3 linked regions of the Homo sapiens genome follow. The protein of the gene in region 3 purifies or fractionates together with the protein of the main gene of each other region. This does not show direct contact. Each region holds a gene or a part of one and is shown on either strand. Other genes may lie near its edges.

What was found.
Region 1: the proteins of HMCES (region 3) and DPCD fractionate together in Homo sapiens (co-fractionation; one large-scale study listed by BioGRID). This does not show direct contact.
Region 2: the proteins of HMCES (region 3) and FAHD2A purify together in Homo sapiens (affinity purification with mass spectrometry; one large-scale study listed by BioGRID and IntAct). This does not show direct contact.

Annotation. Positions count from the first base shown.
Region 1 is NC_000010.11:101,594,695-101,598,348, reverse strand, and holds part of DPCD (protein DPCD), read right to left. Parts: coding exon 3,611-3,654; intron 1,757-3,610; coding exon of another isoform or gene 1,710-1,756; exon of another isoform or gene 335-1,709; intron 1-334. UniProt on the Homo sapiens protein: May play a role in the formation or function of ciliated cells.
Region 2 is NC_000002.12:95,405,601-95,409,254, reverse strand, and holds part of FAHD2A (oxaloacetate tautomerase FAHD2A, mitochondrial), read right to left. Parts: coding exon 3,452-3,654; intron 2,315-3,451; coding exon 2,098-2,314; intron 1-2,097. UniProt on the Homo sapiens protein: Tautomerase that converts enol-oxaloacetate, a strong inhibitor of succinate dehydrogenase, to the physiological keto form of oxaloacetate. It is thereby required to maximize aerobic respiration efficiency by preventing succinate dehydrogenase inhibition.
Region 3 is NC_000003.12:129,281,774-129,285,427, forward strand, and holds part of HMCES (abasic site processing protein HMCES), read left to right. Parts: intron 1-3,654.

The sequences.
Region 1 (3,654 bases), on a different chromosome or scaffold from region 3:
GTAGCTCAATTTATTTTTTATATTTGGCCTTTAAAGGGTAAGCTTTGATTATCTGAAAAAGTAAATTATGAGGACTACCTCACGACCTAGGGCTGGATAAGTGAGGTGCCCCTGTAAGTCATGGGCCTTGCTAAAATGGGTGTCCTAATGCATAATAATGCACCAAGGTGGCCTGGAGGGACGACAACCACCCCAGGGTTTTCTGTGCACTTTTACTCCAAAAAATTTTGAGTTTTACACAGAAAACTTCCCAAGAAGTACTCAAAGAAGGAAGAAAGTCAGCTGCTGATTTCCTTACTTCTGACCTTAAAAACCACTCAGGGAACTTGACACCTCTGGCTGCTTCACCTTTATTTTTTGTTTAAACACCTTGAGAATTAAATTCTTTGTTAGAATGTAGAAGAAAGTCTCCTTTCCCATTCCCTCTAGAGATAAGACCCAATAAAAGATTTTGGGGAAGTCCTTCTTATTTTTCCTATGCACAAGTGCATGGGTGTGAACACACATGTACAAATGCACACTTTGTCTTGTCTTTCTTGCCCCCGTCTTTGTTTCTGAACTCAAGGACGGCTCCTGCGGCAACAGAAGACTGTTTCCATCTGCTGTCACTCTGATTTGATTATATGTTAAACCCAAACTGGTGTGAGGCAGCTTCCCGGGACGCTGTCATATCTTCCCAGCTGAGCCCCAGCCAGACCTTGGAAAAGAGACTTTCCACCCCGGTGAAGAGTCTGATGGGGAATATATAAAGGAGGTGGCGCCTGGGGGCTTTTTCCTAAATCAGCAGGAAGCAGGCTGATGTCCCAGACTGCTGAAAGGAGGCCCCATCTTTCAGGTGGGCTGGAAAGTAGAAGTCCTAAAGGCCTCTTTCCCCAAAGCTCCAAACCCTGGCCCACTTCCAATGTGGATAATTACATTCCCCTTCCCTAAATGTTCCCTGCAGCTTCAACTGGATGCAGGATTCTTCTTTTCTGCCTTAAAACACTGCAACATTGCTATGTGGCAATTAAACAGCTGCCATGTCCCATCCCAGAGGAGGCCGAAGGGAATCGAGTGGGTCATTTATAAAGCCAGTGAAGTGCTTGGGGATGAAAGTGCTCAATATCCTCCAAATGCAGCCTGGGGTGGTTAGGCTGGCGGTCAAATACCAAAGCAGATTAAGTCGGTAATCCGAATGTAATCGCTGGGGGATGGCCTGCCCTTCAGCCTCAGCCCCCTTGGACATGCTGTGTTCTTCTCAGGCTGGTTTGATGTTCCGATCATTGTTGTGGGGCCTTCAGTTTTTTCCTCTATGAATACATGCAGCAATCATTGTGGGGGGTGGGAATGAATAGCACTGAGAGGGTAGGAAAAAAACAGGACACTAACATGCTTATTAACACCGACGGGAGGAACTCTGTCCCAGACTGACGCACACCTATTGGCAATTCTTCCTCTGTAAATTACTTTGAATTTTTCTAACAGAAAACTGGTTTGGCTAATTATCAAATTTGTATACTTAGCTAGAAAAATGGAAACTATTCCTATTTATTGCCACAAAAACCATGTCCCTACTTTACTTCATAGAATGCACAAGCAAAAGCCAGCTCAACCCCTGGGATTATTTATACTTAAAAATTAATAATGGAGAGTATTTTGCCAGGGCAGCAGTGGTGGATAGGAAGAAGAGTAAGAAAAAGATCTGCTGTTCTAGAGCTGGGCCCAGTGGCTCAAGTGAGGTCCTCCTGTCTGCCCATCAGTCCACACTCAGGCCTTTCTGGGGAAAGAAAAACAGTAAGAAGAAAAGAAAGTTGGATTTAAGTGTTCTCAACTCCCAGCACTATGTTGTTGAGGACTAAAGCATGGGCTCTTAATTGGACAGAACTAGGCTTAAATCCTGGCTTAGAAACTAGCTACATAATTCTCAACAAGGTGCTTAACCTCTTTGAGCTTCCATTTTTTCCAAATGTAAAATGGAGACAAGAGTATCTACCTCATAGGGCTTTAACGAGGACGAGTAAATGAGGTAATTCACGTAGAGCACTTAGCATGGTGCCCAGTAAGAGTCACGCTATTAATATCATTATTAGGTCAACTTTAGCCAAACAGTGTTCTCCTGTGAACAGTCTTCTCCATTTCTGCTTTTAAGAAAGAGGAGTTTGGAAGCCATGGTCTATTCCCCACCTGCCACTAGGAGAAGTGACAGGTTAATAAGGGATATCAGGGCACATGGTGCTACAAATGAAGAAACCTGGACTTGTTTTTAATTTCAGTTTCATATCCAAGCACAACAAAGAGGCCTGGGTTTTATTTGTTTGTTTTTACAGCCGCAGCAGCTATAGCTGTTTTATTTGCTCTGTGTGGAGGAGTAGAGAAGTGGCACGGGGGGCTGGGAGTGAGGAGCTGCGGCTATTCTCTGGCCTGGTTATGGTGGTGGCTAGTCCACGTGACCTCTGCTTTCATAAGTTCTCCCCTGTTAGGCATTCCAAGGCTGTCATCCCCTGGGAGCACTATAAATTACAATGCATTGTGAGGATATTACTACTGTATTGGTTTCCACCGAATCAGTGTCATATGCTAAACACATCAAGATTTTTAATAGCACCAGACTAAACCAACTGGGACTGGAGCCCAAGCAGCTCATAATAAGGAGGGATCAACACTTCACTGTGCGACTGAACATGCGCAGGACAAACATTTTAAGACTGGAGACTGAGGGAATGCAAGCCCGTGTAATCCATGTTGTCGGTTCTAGACATTTATGAGCTGTCAGAAAAAAGGAAAAAGAAATTCCCTCACCAATACTACCTGTCGATCAGGCCCAGGAAGAAATTAAAGCCAAGAATAATGACAAGAAAATAAACCAGCCTGTGATTCCATCATTGGTCTTAGCATTTCAGATGGAACTTAATAAAGAGACCAACTCCCACTGCTGACAGCCTTGGGCCCTGGGTCAAAGAGCCAGCCACCTAGCTCTGGGAAGCTGGTTAATGCTGATGTGCACACCTGGGAACAGAGTGGACAAATCAAATAATTCCCAGAAATCTGAGCTGGAGCCCCTACCCATGAGCCTGTTCTTAGAGGAAAGGCGCTGCAGGAATGAAAGTGACCACGCTGCAAAATCACTGTTTTGACCCTCTTTGACTGAGATGTTCTTCAAAATAAGGACCATATTTTATAGTGTTGCCTTTGAGGCAAGCTCAGAAGCTCTGCCTCTGATACTCGCTTGCTCCTGGTGTGGCTTTAGAAAACAAAACAAACAAACAAAAAAACAAGGAAAAACAAATTGTGAAAGTCTGCCCTTATCCCTCCTAAACCTACAAGGCTCACTTCCAATACCACCTCCTCTGTAAAGTTTTTTCCCAACTGTTTCTCTACATCTTAGAATTACTCCCTCTCTCATTTGTCTGGGGTGAGGGGTGGGGATGAATTTTACTGGTCAAAAGGACTCGCATTCCACTTTTGGTGCCCAGATTATGCTCAGGAACGTTGTTGTCTCGAGGGCTTCCGTCTCTCCCAGCCTCTACATTTGATCTGGGCTCCTACCTCAAGCCTAAGGCTAGGAGTGTTCATTGTGCTTATGTCAGCCCCAAGTATTACTAAAGGCCCACTGGGAGCCTCTGTCACTTACCAAGTAGTTCACTCGTCTTCTCGTCATATTCTTCAGCCATTTCC
Region 2 (3,654 bases), on a different chromosome or scaffold from region 3:
AGATGCTATGGGGCAATAAGATAGTTATGTGATCTCAAACTACCACCCATGGATTGCTTATTACAAAAATAGAAATGCATCTTCACAATGGAGGGACCTAGTGAATGTCAGCTAAACCAAGTGGTCAAATTCTGGGACCACTGACATGAGCCTCCCAGTGGGATACGATGGAAAATGTATAACATCTGCTTTGTAGATCTCTTGATAAAAATGCTTACCCTGACACTAATCATGAAGAAACAACCAGACAAACCCAGAATGTGAAACATGCTATGAGACAACTGGATTCTTCAAGGAAAGGGCAGGGGGTATTGTTTGAGAGCAGGAGTTGGCAAACTATGGCCAGCTCAACATCTGCTATAATCAACTTTGATTGGAAACCCATCATTCATTTCTGTATCGTGGTTTTCACACTATAACAGCAGAGTTGAATTGTTGCAAAACAGAACATATGACACGCAAAGCCTAATATTTACTAATTGGCCCTTGATATGGTTTAGCTCTGTGTCCCCACCCAAATCTCAACTTGTAGCTCCCATAATTCTAACGTGCTATGGGACGGACCCGGTGGGAGATGACTGAATCATGGGGGCAGGTCTTTCCCGTGCTGTTCTCATGATAGTGAATGGGTCTCATGAGATCTGATAGTTTTAAAAATGGGAGTTTCTCTGCACAAGCTCTTTTCTGCCTGCTGCTATCCACCTAAGATGTGACTTGCTCCTCCTTGCCTTCTGCCATGATTGTGAGGCTTCCCTAGCCACGTGGAACTGTAAGTCCAATTAAACCTCTTTTTTTTGTAAATTGCTCAGTCTCGGATATGTCTTTATCAGCAGCATGAAAACAGACTAATACAGCCCTTTAAGAAAAAGTCTATGGAACCCTGTCCTAGATTGAAACCACTAAAGAGATATAACTGAATACAGTGTGTGGCCTTGGTTGATCATGGAGCAACAAACGAAGTAACCAAATTAGAAGTTATCTTTGGGGAAGTCAGCAGTACTTCCGATTGGGAATTGGGGCAATTGGATTTCATATTAAATATTATTCAAGTTAATTTTTTTGGTTGTGATAATGGTGGGATGGTCATGCAAGCCATTGTCCTTATTCTTAGAAGATGCCTATTTACGTTTTTATGACTAAATTGTCTTAATATTTCCAATGTGTTTTAAAAGGTCCCCTCCACCCCATACCCTGCAAAAAAAAAAAAAAAAAAAAAAAATGTGTGTTTGCCATGTGGAGGGCAGGGAGAAGACAAGGGAGAAAAAGGATATATGGCCAAATGTTTACAATGAAACCAGGTGGAAAAGTTATCTGAGTGTTCACTGTATTATTTTCCCAGCTTTTCTATAATTTTCAAGACATTTCTAAAATAAAAATCTGAGAGAAAAAGTAACCAGTGTTAGAAAGGGTATATACACTACTGGTGGATGTGTAAGTTGCTTTTACAATTTTTTAAAAGGCCAATTGGCAGAATTTTTCAAAAATTTTGAAATACTGCCTATACGCTGACATATTTAAATTCCAAAGGGTTTATTCAAAGGAAATAATAATGTATTAATGGACATGCAAAGCCTTTTCCACATAAGGATGTTTACTGCAACATTTATTTATAGAAGCCAAAAACTAGAAACAGTATCCAGCAGTAAGGTACTCAGGAATAAACTAATCTACATAACAAACTCCGTGGTGTCAGGGCGAATACTTAATGGCATGAAAAAATGCTCCTGATGGAGTCTTAAGTAAAAGGTAAGTATATGTACAGTATAAACATATACAGGAGCGGAGAAACACTGGGAAGGTAGACAGAAAAACATTAATATTCCGAGCCATGGGCAGTGGGATTATGGGTGACATAATTTTTTAATGTTTATCTCTATTTTATTATCTACAGTGAAGGTGCATTGCTTTTGTAACCAGGAAAACACGTACATTAACTTTTTTTTTCCAAGGCCAGTGTTACTACTGTGTGTACAATCCTGTAGAGTTTCTGCTGAATGCGCTATTGAGCGAGAGGTGGCTCCAGTAGGCTCAATACTGAGCTCAGAATGCCCTTGTGATGGGCCCAGTGACTAGGGAGGGCAGTGGGGAGACACTGACCTGGCTCTGTGGTGGGAGGACCACCTCATCATAGGGCCCCACGATGGAGCTGGCAAACTTGCTGAAGATGATGGGCTCCTTGGGCACGGGCACGTTCTGTTCTTTGCAGTGGTCCACATAATTCATGCCCACACACACCACCTTATCTGGTCGTGTGACTGGAGCCAGGAAGGTTACCTCCGACCGTGGTAGGACTGGCAACTGGGCAGCCAGGGCTCTGTAGAGACCAGAGCAGGTGAGAGGGTCTGGCTGGGAACAGGTGGGCAATCCCGGGCAGGCTGGGCAGATCCTGCAGCAGCTACAGGTTTTGCTTTTTGAAATCTATTTCCTAGCTCTATCAACCATCAGAGTCAGTGTGAAAATCACTGACTATTGTCCTTTGCTATCAGAGCAGGGCTTTTATTTATCCAGTGTTGATTTCCTCTCCCCCTTAGGTAACTCATGTCCATGTAAAAGATACAAACTGGAATACATGGAAAGGTTTCCCTTTCCCCTTCCGGTTACCCCGTTCCCCTGGCTCTTCGCAGCTACTCTATGGATATTCTTCTCCCACCCTTTTGTATGCAAATGATAGCATACTATTTACATCTTTTAAAAAAACAACTGATTTTGGAGATCTCTGCTTAACAATATGTAACAATACATAGAGAGTGTCCTCTTTATTTCTTGTGGCTGCATATTACTGCTCTATAGAGATATACCCAAGTCCCTAATGAGGGGCATGGAGATTTCCAGTCTTTGCAGAATATGGCAATATGGGAACATACTGTTAATACTGTGAGCTGTGAAACATTTGTATTTTTTTCCATTTTAATAGATGAAAATGACATCTTAAAGTATTTTTAATTTATTGTTCATCAGCTCCTTAGACCAGATTCTATAGGGGTCCAGGCTTCAGGGACACTCTCACCTAATCTAGTCCAAACCCAGGAACCAAGTGTCTTATAGAAAACCTCCTTGCAGTCCTCTCTCCTTGTAGGAGCTGGGAGTCTATATCACTCCCCCAGCTGCATAAGATGCCTTTTAGGACCCCCGGGCCCAGACCCGTCAGTCAGTCCAGGACTTCATTCCCAGAGGAGGCAGTGTGATGAAGTATAGAGTCCTGGTTCCAGCACCACATGTATGGCCTTCAAATTGTTAATCACCTCCCCTAGCTCTCAGTTTTCTCCTCTGAAAACTGAAGATGTTATTATGTAAGATTTCTAAGGATCTTTTAAGAGAACGGGAGAAAAGGAAAGGTGGGGTTACTCTGCTCCCTTGCAAAAGAGCTACCTGCTGGTGCTGTTTCCCAGAGCGGGGAGGGTGCAGGGGGACCAGGGCAGCTGCTTCAGGGCGATGCTGCCCACTTACTTACCTTCTTGCCACTGAGAGGGTGGCCTCTCCCTGCTCTAGGAACTGCGTCATCGTCTTCGGGAGTGTGGGGTCAAAGGCATTGAGGTTGATAACCCCTCCACCATTCCCTGTCTCCAGGCCCAAGTGAGGCCCCACCAGGTGGGGTGCCCGGAACTGCACTAGTCTCATGTCTCTGGAGGGTTGAAAGGGCCACTTCTGAGCCTG
Region 3 (3,654 bases):
CAGTGGGATCTCTTGAGGTCACGAGTTTGAGATCAGTCTGGCCAACATGATGAAACTCTGTCTGTACTATAAAAAAAAAAAATGTGGAGGTTGCAGTGAGTCGAGAATGTGCCACTGCACTCCAGCCTGGGTGACAGAGCAAGACTCAGTCTCAAAAAAAAAAAAAAAAAAAAAATCAAATAATGTTCTTGGTTGAATGAAGCCATTTATATGACATAGTTATTTTTGTGTCATTTTTAGAGGATGCATACTTCCCTATTGAAACTTTTTGTTTTAAATGAGAGGGGAATCAAAATAAAATATTCTGGAGAACCTTGAAGGGGAAAAGAGAGCATAAAACATATTTCAAAGGAAAGCATAACTTAGAGTGAGAATAGAGAGCAGGATTAAGTGTATGAGCCTGGCCAGGCCTGGTGGCTCACGCCTGTAATTCTAGCACTTTGGGGGAGGCTGAGGCCAGAGAATTGCTTCAGGCCAGGATTTCAGGACACCAGCCTGAGCAAATGAGACCCTGTTTTTAACAAAAAAAAAAAAAAAAAGCCTTAGTCATTTATATGACCTCCTTAGAATTATAGAAAGTTAGCTGGAAGAAAAATTTGTCTAACAGATGTAAAGATAGAAGTATACATAGATTATGACTTGTCCTAGGTTACCTAATCAGTGAGGGACAGAACTAGAACTGAGATCCAGACCACCGTCCCCACTCCAGTGGATGCATCCTGGAACCAGGAATGGGGAAGGTGGAGCCACTAGCAAATACAGCCCTCATTTGGGCCAGTGGTATGAATTTGCTGATATAGTATTTGATTTCACATCTCTAACAAGTTTTATTAAGATTGCTATGGTTTCTTAATTTTGATAATATTTGATATCTCATTTTTCTCAGACCTATAAATTATAAAGCAAAATTAGAACCATTTTAGCAGTTCATTCAAATCATTAACAGCCTGCATATGTATATAGATAGCAACATTTTCATTTGAAACCACAGATTTGCAAATTACTTCCTGTTTCATTTATCCACCCCAGTGCTACCAGGTGTTCTGTTCAGAAGTCCAAAAGGGTAGAGGAAAGATGACTAATATTGAGCAATGGTCTTAGTATTTTGGCTTTTCAACTACTTTCTATTCGTCATTCTCACATTTGGATTTGGTTTACAGTTGTCAAGGGTACACTCTCAGCGCTGATCAGTGGAATTTGTGAGAGCAGAATTCTCAACCTTGACACTGTTGACAGTTTTGGCCAGGATAATTTTTTGTCATAGGGAGCTATTCTGGGCGTTGTAGAGCGTTTAGCAACATCCTCTACCAGCTAGATGTCAGTAGCATCCTCCACAATAGCATCCCCCAGATCAGAGCAACCAAAGGTATCTCCAGATACTGCCAGAAGTCTCTGGATGGTGGGGAGGGGTGTGTCAGAATTGTCCCGTACTGAGAACCACAGATTTTTTCAGTATTGTTGTCTTGCAAATTTCTGATGAAAGATCATTTAGTTGACCATTGCGTAATGTTGTCTCATTCTCATTTATGCACTGAGCTGGGGGTCCTTCTGCTTGGAAGACTTTTTTTTTTTTTTGGAGACAGGGACTTGCTGTGTTGCCCAGGCTGGAGTGCAGTGGCGCAATCATGGCTCACTACAACCTTGACCTCCCAGGCTCAAGCGATCCTGCTGCCTCAACCTCCCCAGCAGCTGGGATCACAGGCTTTTCCTTTTGACATTTTGAGGGGGAAGTTCTCACTGTGTTGCTCAAACTGGTCTCAAGACTCTTGAGCTCAGGCCAGGTGCAGAGGCTCACACCTGTAATCTCATTACTTTGGGAGGCTGAGGCAGGTGGATCGCTTGCAGTCGGGAGTTGTAGACCAGCCTGACCAACATGGTGAAACCCTGTCTCTACTAAAAATACAAAATTAGTCGGGTGTGGTGGTGCATGCCTGTAATCCCAGCTACCTGGGAGGCTGAGGCAGGAGAATCGCTTGAACGTGGGAGGCGGAGGTTGCAGTGAGCCAAGATCGCGCCATTGCACTCCAGCCTGGGCAACAAGAGCGAAACTCTGTCTCAAAAAAGAAAAATCAACCTTGAGCTCAAGGGATCCTCCCCACTTGGCCTACCAGAGTGCCAGGATTATAGGCTTGAGCTGCCAGAAGGCAAATTTGATTCTGGAAGAGAAAGAGGATTTATGAAATCTCTGTTTTCAACTGTTCTTTCTCACAAACACACACAAACAGTCCTCATTATTCTTAGATTCCATATTTCCAAATTCACCTACTCACTAAAATTTATTTGTAACCCCTAAATTCATACTCACTTTGCTTTTGCAATCATTGGTGCACATACAGAGAGCTGACAAATTTGAGTACCTTGATGTTTCCAGCTGAGGTTGATCGAGGCAGAGCTCTGCCTTCTTGTTTCATCTCTTACGTTATAAACAAGTATCTTTTTTGCAGCCAGTTTAGTGCCATGTGTGATTTCACTGTTTAAAATGATCCCAAGCATAGCACTAAAGTGCTGGCTGGTATTCCCAAGCTAAAGAAGGCTGTGATATGTCTTAAAAAGAAGATATATACATTGGATAAGCTTTAGTCAGGCATGAGTTATAGTGCTCTTGGTCTTGAATTTAGTGTAAATGAATTAAGAGTAAGTTTAAATTAGATGTCTTTAAACAGAAACACACATAAAACAAGGTCATATATTGATCAGTTGATGAAAGTGTCGTCACCAGATGCTGTTAGAAACATAACCTTGCATTTCCCTAAGAGCAGCAGTTCAGTACTCAAAGCAACTTTATGAAATCTAACTACTGCAAATAAAGGGAATCAACTGTTTGTGTGTATATATATGAAAAGAGAATTGGCCGGGCGCAGTGGCTCACACCTGTAGTCCCAGCACTTTGGGAGGCTGGGAGGCTGAGGCAGGCGGATCACTTGAGGTCAGGAGTTCGAGACCAGCGTAACCAACATAGTGAAACCCTGTCTCTACTAAAAATACAAAATTAGCTGGGCGTAGTGGCACATGCCTATAATCCCAGCTACTTGGGAGGCGGAGGCAGGAGAATCGCTTGAACCTGGGAGGCAGAGGTTGCATTGAGCTGAGATCGTGCCACTGCACTCCAGCCTGGGCAACAGAGCGAGACTCCATCTCAAGAAAAAGAGAATTAATGGATACAGCAGGCAGGATTCTGGAAGAAGCAGGACTGGATTTTATCAGCAGCACTATGGAGGGATTAGCTTTTAAACAAAAGGAAGCCCTTCTCCTGAGACTGCGACTACTGATGATTCCTTTCTTCAGATTCCATTCTCTCCTGACTTTCTTCGTTCTACTTTTATCTTAGTAGGTACTTCTACTTGGAACTCTGCTTTTACCCTAATTTCTTCTTTTAACAAAATTTTTTGTACCCTCAGGTTAAATCCTGTACATGATATACTCTCTAAGAAACTTTACCTTCATGGCATTAATAGTCATCTTTTTATAGACAATTTTATGATTTGTTTTTAATCCTTACCTTAGAAAAATACTATACTACAATTTGAGTGCCTACTCCATGCCACACATTTTAACTATATTATCTTTCATTCTTGAAAATTATCCCACAGGGTAATTATTGTTTGTTCTAATTTTTGGATAAGGAAAGTTGAAGGCCCAAGAAGTTGAGACTAG